Regions from separate parts of the Homo sapiens genome. Here regions 2 and 3 are each reported to be linked to region 1. The links are microRNA targets in miRTarBase. Many come from high-throughput screens and were not tested one by one. Region 1 holds a microRNA gene; each other region holds the end of a gene's coding sequence.
The links. The annotated mature microRNA hsa-miR-3138 reads UGUGGACAGUGAGGUAGAGGGAGU and lies in region 1 at 950-973, opposite strand. An mRNA with a match to its seed (bases 2 to 7 or 8) in the 3' UTR can be bound and repressed. Matches are read on the target gene's strand: a 7mer-m8 pairs with bases 2 to 8, a 7mer-A1 pairs with bases 2 to 7 and ends in A, and an 8mer does both.

Region 1 (3,150 bases):
GTCACCAAGTCACAGATAACCTCCCACTGCCACCTGCACCGCCCAGCACGGGGACAGAGGAGGAGCCCGCCGCCACTCACCGAGTAGCCGTCAGCAACGCTGAACACTGTGACCACCTTGCTGGCGTCGCACACCGCGAGGAAGGCGCCGTCGTGGGAGTAGGCCACGTCGGTCACGGGGCCCTTGGCCTCTAGGAGCTTGCCCTCATCCTTCAGCGTGGTGCCCAGGATGGAATACAGGCGGACGTTGCCGTCCTACGGCAGGGACAGAGAGGAAGTGAGCCACCCCTGAACACACACACCACACCCATCCTTTGTGAAGGGGGGGTCGAGGGCTTAAGAAACTGTGCCGTTCCCACTGACTGCTGCTCTGCTGGGCCCATGCCAGGAGCTGGGCATGGCTCTTCCCGTGGATGGGCCTGAAACCTACGCAGCTCTATGAAAACAGCTGTTGGTACCTCGGGGCACCGCTGGTCTCATGAGGCCCTCAAGCTGGCTGGTGGAGGAAGCCACTCCATGCCCTGGTCACATCCGGCACCTGAAGGACCTGGCAGCACATAGACCCACCCAGCCCCTAGCATGGAGGGCACTGCCACGCCTGCTGCAGGACTGGGTTATCAGAGGGCTGCCCTCCTGGGCTGGAGAGGGGAAATGAGCTCTTCTACAGAGCACTCAGGACTTGGCCAGGCACACTGTGACCAGACCACACACACAAATTCAAGGGCATGAGAATTATGCCGAGGCAGAACTCAAGGGAAACTGTAAAATGTCTGGTTAGTACCGCACCTTGAAGATGCTGGGAAACTTCTGTCACTCTTCCTTCAACCTGTGAGCCGAGCCCAGCCCCAGGGGATGCCATTCCTTGATTTCCTGACCTGCTACCCTCTTGCGCTCCCCTCCTGCCGCCACTCATGGGGCTGGCTCTGAGGCACAGCTGTGCCCTCCTCGGCACTCCCTCTACCTCACTGTCCACAGTCTTGTGGGCACCCGGGCAGTGAGGTGGGGGAAGTGCCGAGGAGGGGAGGGGAAGGCTCCAGCCCTGGGTGGCAGGAGATGGCGTGGCTGGGCCCCAGAGCAGGTCCCACGCCCCGACTGCCCCCATCCTTCCCCTGACCCCTCGCCTTCCCTGAGACAGCCCCGGTACTCACACAGCTCACACTGTCCCCAAATCACCCAGATACCAAGGACAGAGAGCACGGGGGAGAGGAAAGCGACTTACCACACCCCCAATTGCCACCGTGTCCCCGCCGGGGTGCACTGCCACAACTTCGGGCTCGTAGCCGGGGTTGTCGATGCTGAAGCACTTCCTCTGATCCTTCAGCAGGACAATCTGTGGCACACACAGGCAGCTGGTCAGGCGGTCCAGCCCTTCGGGACAAAACCCTCAGTGGTAGGAGGGGCGCGTCCCTGTCGGGGCTCACTGGAGCTGGGTTTGGCTCCATACCCAACCTCTTTGCAGGGCCACCTGGGGCTCTGAGCCACACCACCTGGACTCATGTCCCGTTTGACAGTTGCTCTAGCCAGTCAGGTGGGGCAGGAAACACAACTAACTGTGACCATTACTGTCATCACTACATTACTTCCAAGGCAGTCACCACAGCACCACCTCTTGGAAAGTCACTTGGCCTCGATGGGAATCAACGTTCAGGGTAAGAAAGGTACTAACAACAGTAAACAAAAACAGCGACAGCCCCTAGGCACGTGCCAGCGCTCTGCTGTGAGTGTTCCAGCCCCACAAGGCAGGGATCGGGTTCCCCGTTTCAGAGAAGAAAATGGGGTACGGTGCTTATGCTGCACGCCCAAGGCTCCAGTTCCCACAGGCTGAGCCGGGACTCGCCCAGAATCCAAGCCTCGGCACCCGCACTGGGCCTTTGCCTCTGGTACATGCAGCAGAGGCTCTGCAGCGGGGGCCTTCCTTCCATCTCCCTTCCTTGTCAATTCTTCCGGTTCTAACTTACTCAACTGCTCCCAGACAGTGGCCTTCATCTCTGAGTTTTGCCTTTATCCCAGTGTGCCCCTACCCAAGCCACCAGCTGTCATGAGGGAAGGCAGCCTCTGCCCCTACCGTCTGGGCTTCTGTTTCTGCGTGGATTGTGGGTGGATCGCGATGAATGGTAGCAGCACCCTGACTAAAACCTACTACTGAAGAGGCACCTCTGTCATCTGCCCGGCTCTGGAGGTGGCCTTACCTACTCACAGGTGAAGAATGAGGGCCTAAGCATTTGCCTGAAGCTTCGTCCGACATGAGACTTGAACCTGGTTGTTTCCTGATCTAAAATCCCAGGCCCCTCCTAGCACCCTCCTAACTCTTTGACTGGTGACAGGGAGCTCTGCAGAAAATTCTGACCCAGAGCAGGGGTTCCAGATGCCCTGGGAGGATCAGGTAACAGCAGATCACAGAGAAATGCCACATGAGGAGGTGCAGAGACCTGGAGCCTGTCCCCTGCACACCACAACCCTACCGGGGTCCTTTCTAACCTCCTGGGCAGCAGGCGCCAGCTGGGCCAGTCTGAACATCCTCTCAGCCTCAGGGGAAAGGGTGGCCTATGATGACCACAACTTTACAGATGAGGAAACCTGGGTCTGGAGACACAGGGCACGCTGCCCTAGGCCTCATCCCCTCACCCACAAAGCCCCATGTGCAGACCCCTTGGCTGGGAAGAGCCCTGCTGTGCAGAGATAGGCCACCTGCCAGCCTTCTAGAACTCCGCTTTGTAGCGTTTCCCCCAGGCCCCGAGGCGCTCCATGTGTGGATTCCCTTTGCACCTCCCCACCCCCACTGGCTGTCCAGGCTGTTTGCAATAATTACTTGGCAGGGATTTCTTATTATCTAGGACACAGAGAAATCCACTGTCCCTAACGCAATTAAGTTCACAAGGCAAAGGAGGGCCAGAGGGTGCTGAAAGCAGCTTTCTTTAGCAGGGCTCGCCACTCGTGCCAACAGGTGCCCCTTGACTTCCCCGGTCTACATGCCAGCAAGCCTAGGCCCGCCAACAGATAATATCTTCTGCAGGGCAGAATTCTGTATAAAGTGGGTCAGGCTTGGGTCTCAGGTGGCTTTGGTCCAGATATTCCAAAGGTGTGCAGGTGGCCCCACTGTCTGGGGTTAGAAGCCAGGCCGGGAAGTCAGGTGCCACCCTTCTGCATGTGG
Region 2 (3,000 bases), not on the chromosome of region 1:
GGAAGAAGGGGAAGACTGTACACTCAGTGTCTACAGGCAACTGCACAACTCCCTGGATCCGTCTGAACTGCCTGGGAAGCAGGGGCTGCCAGAGTCTGGGCGAGTACGGGCCGAGGAACGATTACGGCCAACCAGGCCCTGTGCTGAGGAGAACTGAGCCCGCTGGGTGTCTGTTGTCTGCCCTCTGCTCCTGCTTCTCAGCTCTTCCACCGTCCTGCCCCACGAAGGATCCAAGGCCAGTTAACCAGGCAAGACACAAGCCTTGGCTGGAAAACTGTGGTAGAGCCGGGCTGTGGCTCAGGTAATTTTTGCCATTTGGCCAGAGGGAATCAGAGACTACAAGCTGGACAGTCACCCAGGCCCAACCTTCCCCAATGCACGAGTCCTCTCTCTCTCCTTGTCCCTGTCCACCAAGTAGTTGGACCATTCTGGCCCCCAAACAAGGGAAGATAAAGTCCCCAGCACACAGCAGGAGTCAAAAATTCTTCTCGGCTCCTTGGTGGGTTGTTTCTGGATCCTAGGGCAGCCTCTGTCTGTGTGGTTAATGTTCTGGTTTCTCAGTCTCCTCACTATATCCACTTCACTCCTCATTTGCCCAATGGGCTCAAGTACCCCATAAGATTTACCAGCCATCAGCTCTATCTAGGGGGCTTTCATTTCTTTCCCCTTGGAGTTCTTTTCTTCAGACTTAAAGCAGAAAGGGGTCTGTGCTGCCTCTAAAGGATTATGAGACTACCCTTTAGGTTGAAGTTTGACCTGGCTCCTGGCTTACCAGTCTCCTGGAAGCAGAGCATGCAGATACTCATGCGGATACCCATTGGAATGACATCATCCCTCCCCAACCCCAGCTCTCTCTGCTCACCTTCCAAAGGCACCTGGAGGTGCAAGCCTCATGCATCTCCTTTCCTGAGCACCAGTAATGCTGCTGGCATCGCCTGCTTTCTCTCCAGTGGCTGGAGACTTCAAGCTGACTTCATTGTTTCCACCTTGGGAAAATCCCTAGGCTAAGCTGGGCCTGACCCAGCATCCTCTGCCTTCTAGGAAGTGCCCAGCAAGAGGGAAAGCAGACCCCTTTAGTCACTCCACAAGCAATAGCTCCATGAGAGGCATGGACTGTGAGACTACTCCCTCCTGTTCCTCCTTCTCCATCCCCCATGGAGGAGGCATCGCACTTTACCAAGCTGATGCATTCCTACAGAAGTGGGCCCCGGATTTCTGCAAGTCGACTATCATGATGACTTCGCTGGAGGAAAGGTGATACGTACATACGCATTGAGGGCCTCAGCTTTATATAGTTCAAAATGCAGCAAACTTTTCAGAAAGCCACGTAAATAAATTGGTTAGGTTCCTTATACCAGTCACATGGGGAAGTTGAAAAGAATTGTATATTCTTGGCAGTGCTTTTTCTTTAGCATTCTGTCAATTCAAAGAAGGGATCCTCTTTCAAAGGCTACCTTTATGAAGTAGACACTATTGCCCTCAGAATGAGAGAACATTAAACTACCAGTCTGGTAAGCTGGATTTTTTTCCCCATGGCTTTACTTCCTTGCTGTGTGACCTTGGGTGAGTCATTGTCTTCTTGGAGCCTCAGTTTCCCTGTCTGTAAAATGAGTTCTTTGAAATGGATGATCTCTAAGGGCACCAAATCTGGTATTCTAAGGTTCTCCTGTTTTCACCATCTATAATAGTATGGGATGATTTTTGCTTGTGGAAGGTATCATCCGTGTGGGTTCTTCCCTCCTGCCCTCAATTGTTTTTCTGGGCCTTGTTTTTTAGTTTCTGTATGTTTTAATCTCATGGGGATGAGCTCAGAGAAGCTCCGTGGGCCTGTTTCCCAATCTGCAAAGTGTGAAGGGATTAGATGGGATGGTCTCTGAGGCTCTTTGTGGCATCAGCCTTGCCCAGTGCCACACAGTATCTCCTGGCGTTCTAGGAGTCTAGGTATTATGGAAAGTACCCAAGTCTGTGTATCTCCTGTTCCTGTGCATCTCCTATGAATTTCCTGGCAAGAGGAAGACTCAAGACTTCCTCCAGAGGAATTTGTCTTCTCTGCCTTCACTCAGCATGGGAACCAGTGTTCATCCTGACCTTGTCTGTATCAGATTTGGCAGTGAGGAGGCTTGGGGAGCACCTACCTTACTTTCAGGGACAGGAATCTATTGCTCATACTTCTGCTTCCCAGAGTTTTGCCAATCTAAAGGCATTGTCATGTGGCCTGCCTTTCCTGTCCACATCCCCACCTCTGATGCTCAAGATGCTATTTCCAAGATCTCTTACTGCTGCTTCTCCTGGCTTACTGGCCAGAAACTAGCTCACTCAAGGCTGCCATCCTTCACTTGCAGCCTCCCTGCCATTCTCCTTCACTGGTTGGCAACCTTGAGAGTTCAAAGAAAATCAACCTCTGTGGTGGTCAACTAAAGGTATTAGGAAACTAAGTCTGTGGCTCTTCTCTGCTGATGGAAACAGAAGGGCGCCAAGCCATGCCTAAAAAGATCTCGCCAATAATTCTTGTCTTTGAGTGTTGGAGCCCTGGATTCTGGTGCTATAGCTCCTGGTGCCAAAGTCTGGATCTTTCCACATTTCAGCAGCACCAACATCTGCTGCTACTCAAAATGTCCTGTTGAAGAGGGACAGCTGTGATGCCCTTTTGCTGGGGCTGCCATCTTGAAATCTGAGTGCAATAGGATTTGCTTGTAACAGTTATTTCAGGATATTTTGTTTCTTTAATCTGCACACTTTCTAGATAGATTTTATTTTTAAGTGTCCTCAGCATTGCAGAAAATAACATTGTAATAGCAAGTAAAGGCTGGAGGCTGTTTCTCTGGGCTTCAAATGGCTGGCAAGGCTGGCTCTCAAATCCCAAAGTTGGGAGGCATGTTTCTGAAAAGCAACTGAGGTGTGACTGTTTGGACCCAGGCCTCATCATCAGGGGTCCTGGAGGAAGCCTCCAAGTAGAGGGGAGACCTGGTAGTTGAATAGTTGTTTAATCAAGCCAAATAG
Region 3 (3,000 bases), not on the chromosome of region 1:
TAGCACTGCACTTAAAGGCATTACAAAATCAGGATAAAGTGAATCCTGATCATGGATTTTTAGGACATGCGTTTTAGTATTTAGTACTGTTCTTGCAATACTTACAACCAACACTTTAAAACAACATGCAAACACTCCATTTTTTTTTCCCAAAGCTTCACTATGTATTGAGAAAAGGCTATTTTTGGCTTTTCAATATACAACCAATGCATGAATGATTGCTCAGTATTTGCTTCATACAATTTGAGTGTACCTTTAAGCTAAAAAATGCCCTGTAATGGGTGCCATGCTATATTGCCAAGTACCCTAGTCCAGTGGAGGAACAGGATGGATGTTACAGAATGATTTTTGTCTTTGACTTCTTGATTGCCATTCATTAAAGTGCTATTCTACATAACTCCTCTGGTGGCTGGATGTCCAAAAATCATAAAATTATCCGTTCATCTGCTCCAAAGGTGAATGTCCATTTTAAACACAAGACAAAAACATCCTGTATTTAGCTGTACCCATGATGTGCATGCACACAGTCGTGGTTCCCAGTGGGCGGTTCCTGGACCAACAGCACCAATATCACCTGGAAACTACTTGAAATGCAAATGCTCTGTACCACTCCAGAAGTACTGAAATCTTATTCTGTGGGGTGGAGGGCCCAGTGGCCTCTGCTTACCAAGCCCTCCAGGGGAATCTAAGTTTTCCAATGCTAAGTTTGCAAACCACAGAATTCAATCATCTGTACGCAGATTAAGTAAACTATATGAATGAGAAAAAAAAAAAATACAGATTAACTTATGCTGTTGGCATTGGTAAGATGAGTTCACAAGGTAACATGAGCATGCAGGGCCTTGGTAGCTCAGACCCCAGACCCCTTGCTCAAGAAACTCAAGAGAAAAGATTTAGGGAACGGAATGCAACTTGCAAACCAGTAACCAGGAGACCAGCCACTACTGATTCTAATCTATGCAGTTTTCTGTTCTCCTTGTCCAAACTTGATTAGCTACATGTGTGTGTGACACCAGCTTGCAACACACTCCGTGAGGTGCCAATCCAGGCATGTCCTCTACAATAGACAGACCACGTCACAATCGGCCGAAAGCCCACAGGACATCACTGACTGCATCACTGTTAGAAGAATCACAGTAGGAAACATTTTCATTTTTATTTATTTTTTGAGACAGTTTCACTCGTCGCCCAGGCTGGAGTGCAATGGCGTGATGTCGGCTCACTGCAACCTCTGCCTCCCGGGTTCAAGCGGTTCTCCTGCCTCAGCCTCCCAAGTAGCTGGGATTACAGGCGTTAGCCACCACGCATGGCTAATTTTCTAATTTTTAGTAGAGATGGGGTTTCAACATGTTTGTCAGGCTGATCTTGAACCCCTGACCTCAGGTGATCCGCCTGCCTGGGCCTCCCAAAGTGTTGGGATTACAGGCATGAGCCACTGTGCCCGGCCGACATTTTTATTCTTTAATAGCAATTAGGATAAAGGACTCAAAATTGTACTTAGTAATCACATTGGCATAGCACATGCTATTTGGAAAAAAAATTTTTTTTCTGAGATGTTCCTTGCTGTATGATACAGGCCTATTCTATGACAGGAGCAACGCAAACGATGACCATGTTCCAGTGAGCAAGACTCAATCTCTCAAATGAACAAGAGCCTTGGCTGATTCTAAACACTTTCTTTGCTACAGCACATGATCAAATGATTAGAGTTTTTCAGAGCTTAGAAAGGGTAACCATCTAATCATGACAGAGTTCTTCAGCATTAATAATCAAGAAAGGCACTTTAGGGACATTTGACAAGGAATGACACTAATACAATGAGAATTGGTCTAAGTCCTGCACAAGACTTTGATACAGTTCAAATAGACTGCACACTCTTTCTGTCCCCATGTGTACATACATATTCATACAGGTGGTACAATCTATGTCTCCACTTGCATGTGTATGTATATATCTGTGTATATATAAATATATGTGTGTATATATACCAACATCTATATACATATGTGTGTGTGTGCAAATGTGTATCCATAAGACCATAGAGGGGGAAAAGACATTTGTTTCCTTTAATTGAATAGTACACAAAAATTCTAGTCACTTTATTTAGAACAAAGAATAAGAGTATTGGCAAATTAATGCAAAAAAGTACCCTACTAAACCTTTCTATGCACAAAAAAGAGCAGTAAAATAAATACTCAGAACTTTCCCAGGTTGTCAACTATTAAAATAAAACCTCAGCATTTCAAAAAAGCTTATTCCGCTGCAGGAAAGAAGGTGGACATTTTTGGTACCATAATAAATCACACACTCACACATCCATATTGCTTAGGTTGAAGAGAACGGAATGAACAGAGGAAATTTCTTCCATGAATTGCCCTCCTTTCGGTACCCGCCATGTTTTAGTTACGTTGTATTATTCCACTTAGCTTAAAATATAAAGTCTTGTAGAAACACATTTTTAGGATGTTGAAGTTCTCAAGATATTTGCACAGAATATTTAGAAGTACTTAGAGGAGTTTTGTTAAATGCAGTTGGTCATACTACATACCCCATGGTTGCAGTTTTGACAGACCAAATGCATCTGTGTCAGAAATAGACAAAAGGCATATACTCCTCCTTCCTAGAAACGGGTACATAGACATGTTCTTATTCTTGGGATATGAAAAAACAAGTAGTAATGGCATTTAAAGTTTAATTACTAACTGTATAATGCCTGAGAACAAAATTCAGAGCAATTCTCAAAAGGGTTAAGAGTCAGACTCTGGGCATTTTCGTTTTTTAGCTGCAGGCTCCTCAGTCTCGTGTGATTCTAAAGTGCTTGCATTAGATTTGAGGCTGGTGTCTGCTTTAAGGTTGTCCATGGCAACGGTGAAGCCGGAGAGAAGATAACCCCCACCTCCACTCATCAGCAGTTTAGGATGACTTCGATCTGGCAAAACCTAATCAAGACAGAAAAGACATTCATGCTTTCCTAAGACAATAAAGTCCATGCTAACAACA

Region 2: miRTarBase lists LUZP1 as a target of hsa-miR-3138. Seed matches in the 3' UTR shown: 7mer-m8 at 405-411 and 8mer at 2,226-2,233.
Region 3: miRTarBase lists TRMT6 as a target of hsa-miR-3138. Seed matches in the 3' UTR shown: 7mer-m8 at 2,275-2,281.

The regions. Positions count from the first base shown.
Region 1 is chr4:10,077,673-10,080,822 of GRCh38, forward strand. It overlaps MIR3138 (microRNA 3138), which reads right to left and starts at 1,020; the gene lies at 939-1,020. It overlaps WDR1 (WD repeat domain 1), which reads right to left. Exons shown (of 15, transcript NM_017491.5): 12 at 1,219-1,329; 13 at 81-254.
Region 2 is chr1:23,086,052-23,089,051 of GRCh38, reverse strand. LUZP1 (leucine zipper protein 1) reads left to right here. Exons shown (of 4, transcript NM_001395462.2): 4 at 1-3,000. The coding sequence ends at 157. Among named protein-coding and RNA genes, the nearest start is that of MIR3115, 43 kb to the right of the region's middle.
Region 3 is chr20:5,935,788-5,938,787 of GRCh38, forward strand. It overlaps TRMT6 (tRNA methyltransferase 6 non-catalytic subunit), which reads right to left. Exons shown (of 11, transcript NM_015939.5): 11 at 1,441-2,939. The coding sequence ends at 2,748. Among named protein-coding and RNA genes, the nearest start is that of TRMT6, 13 kb to the right of the region's middle.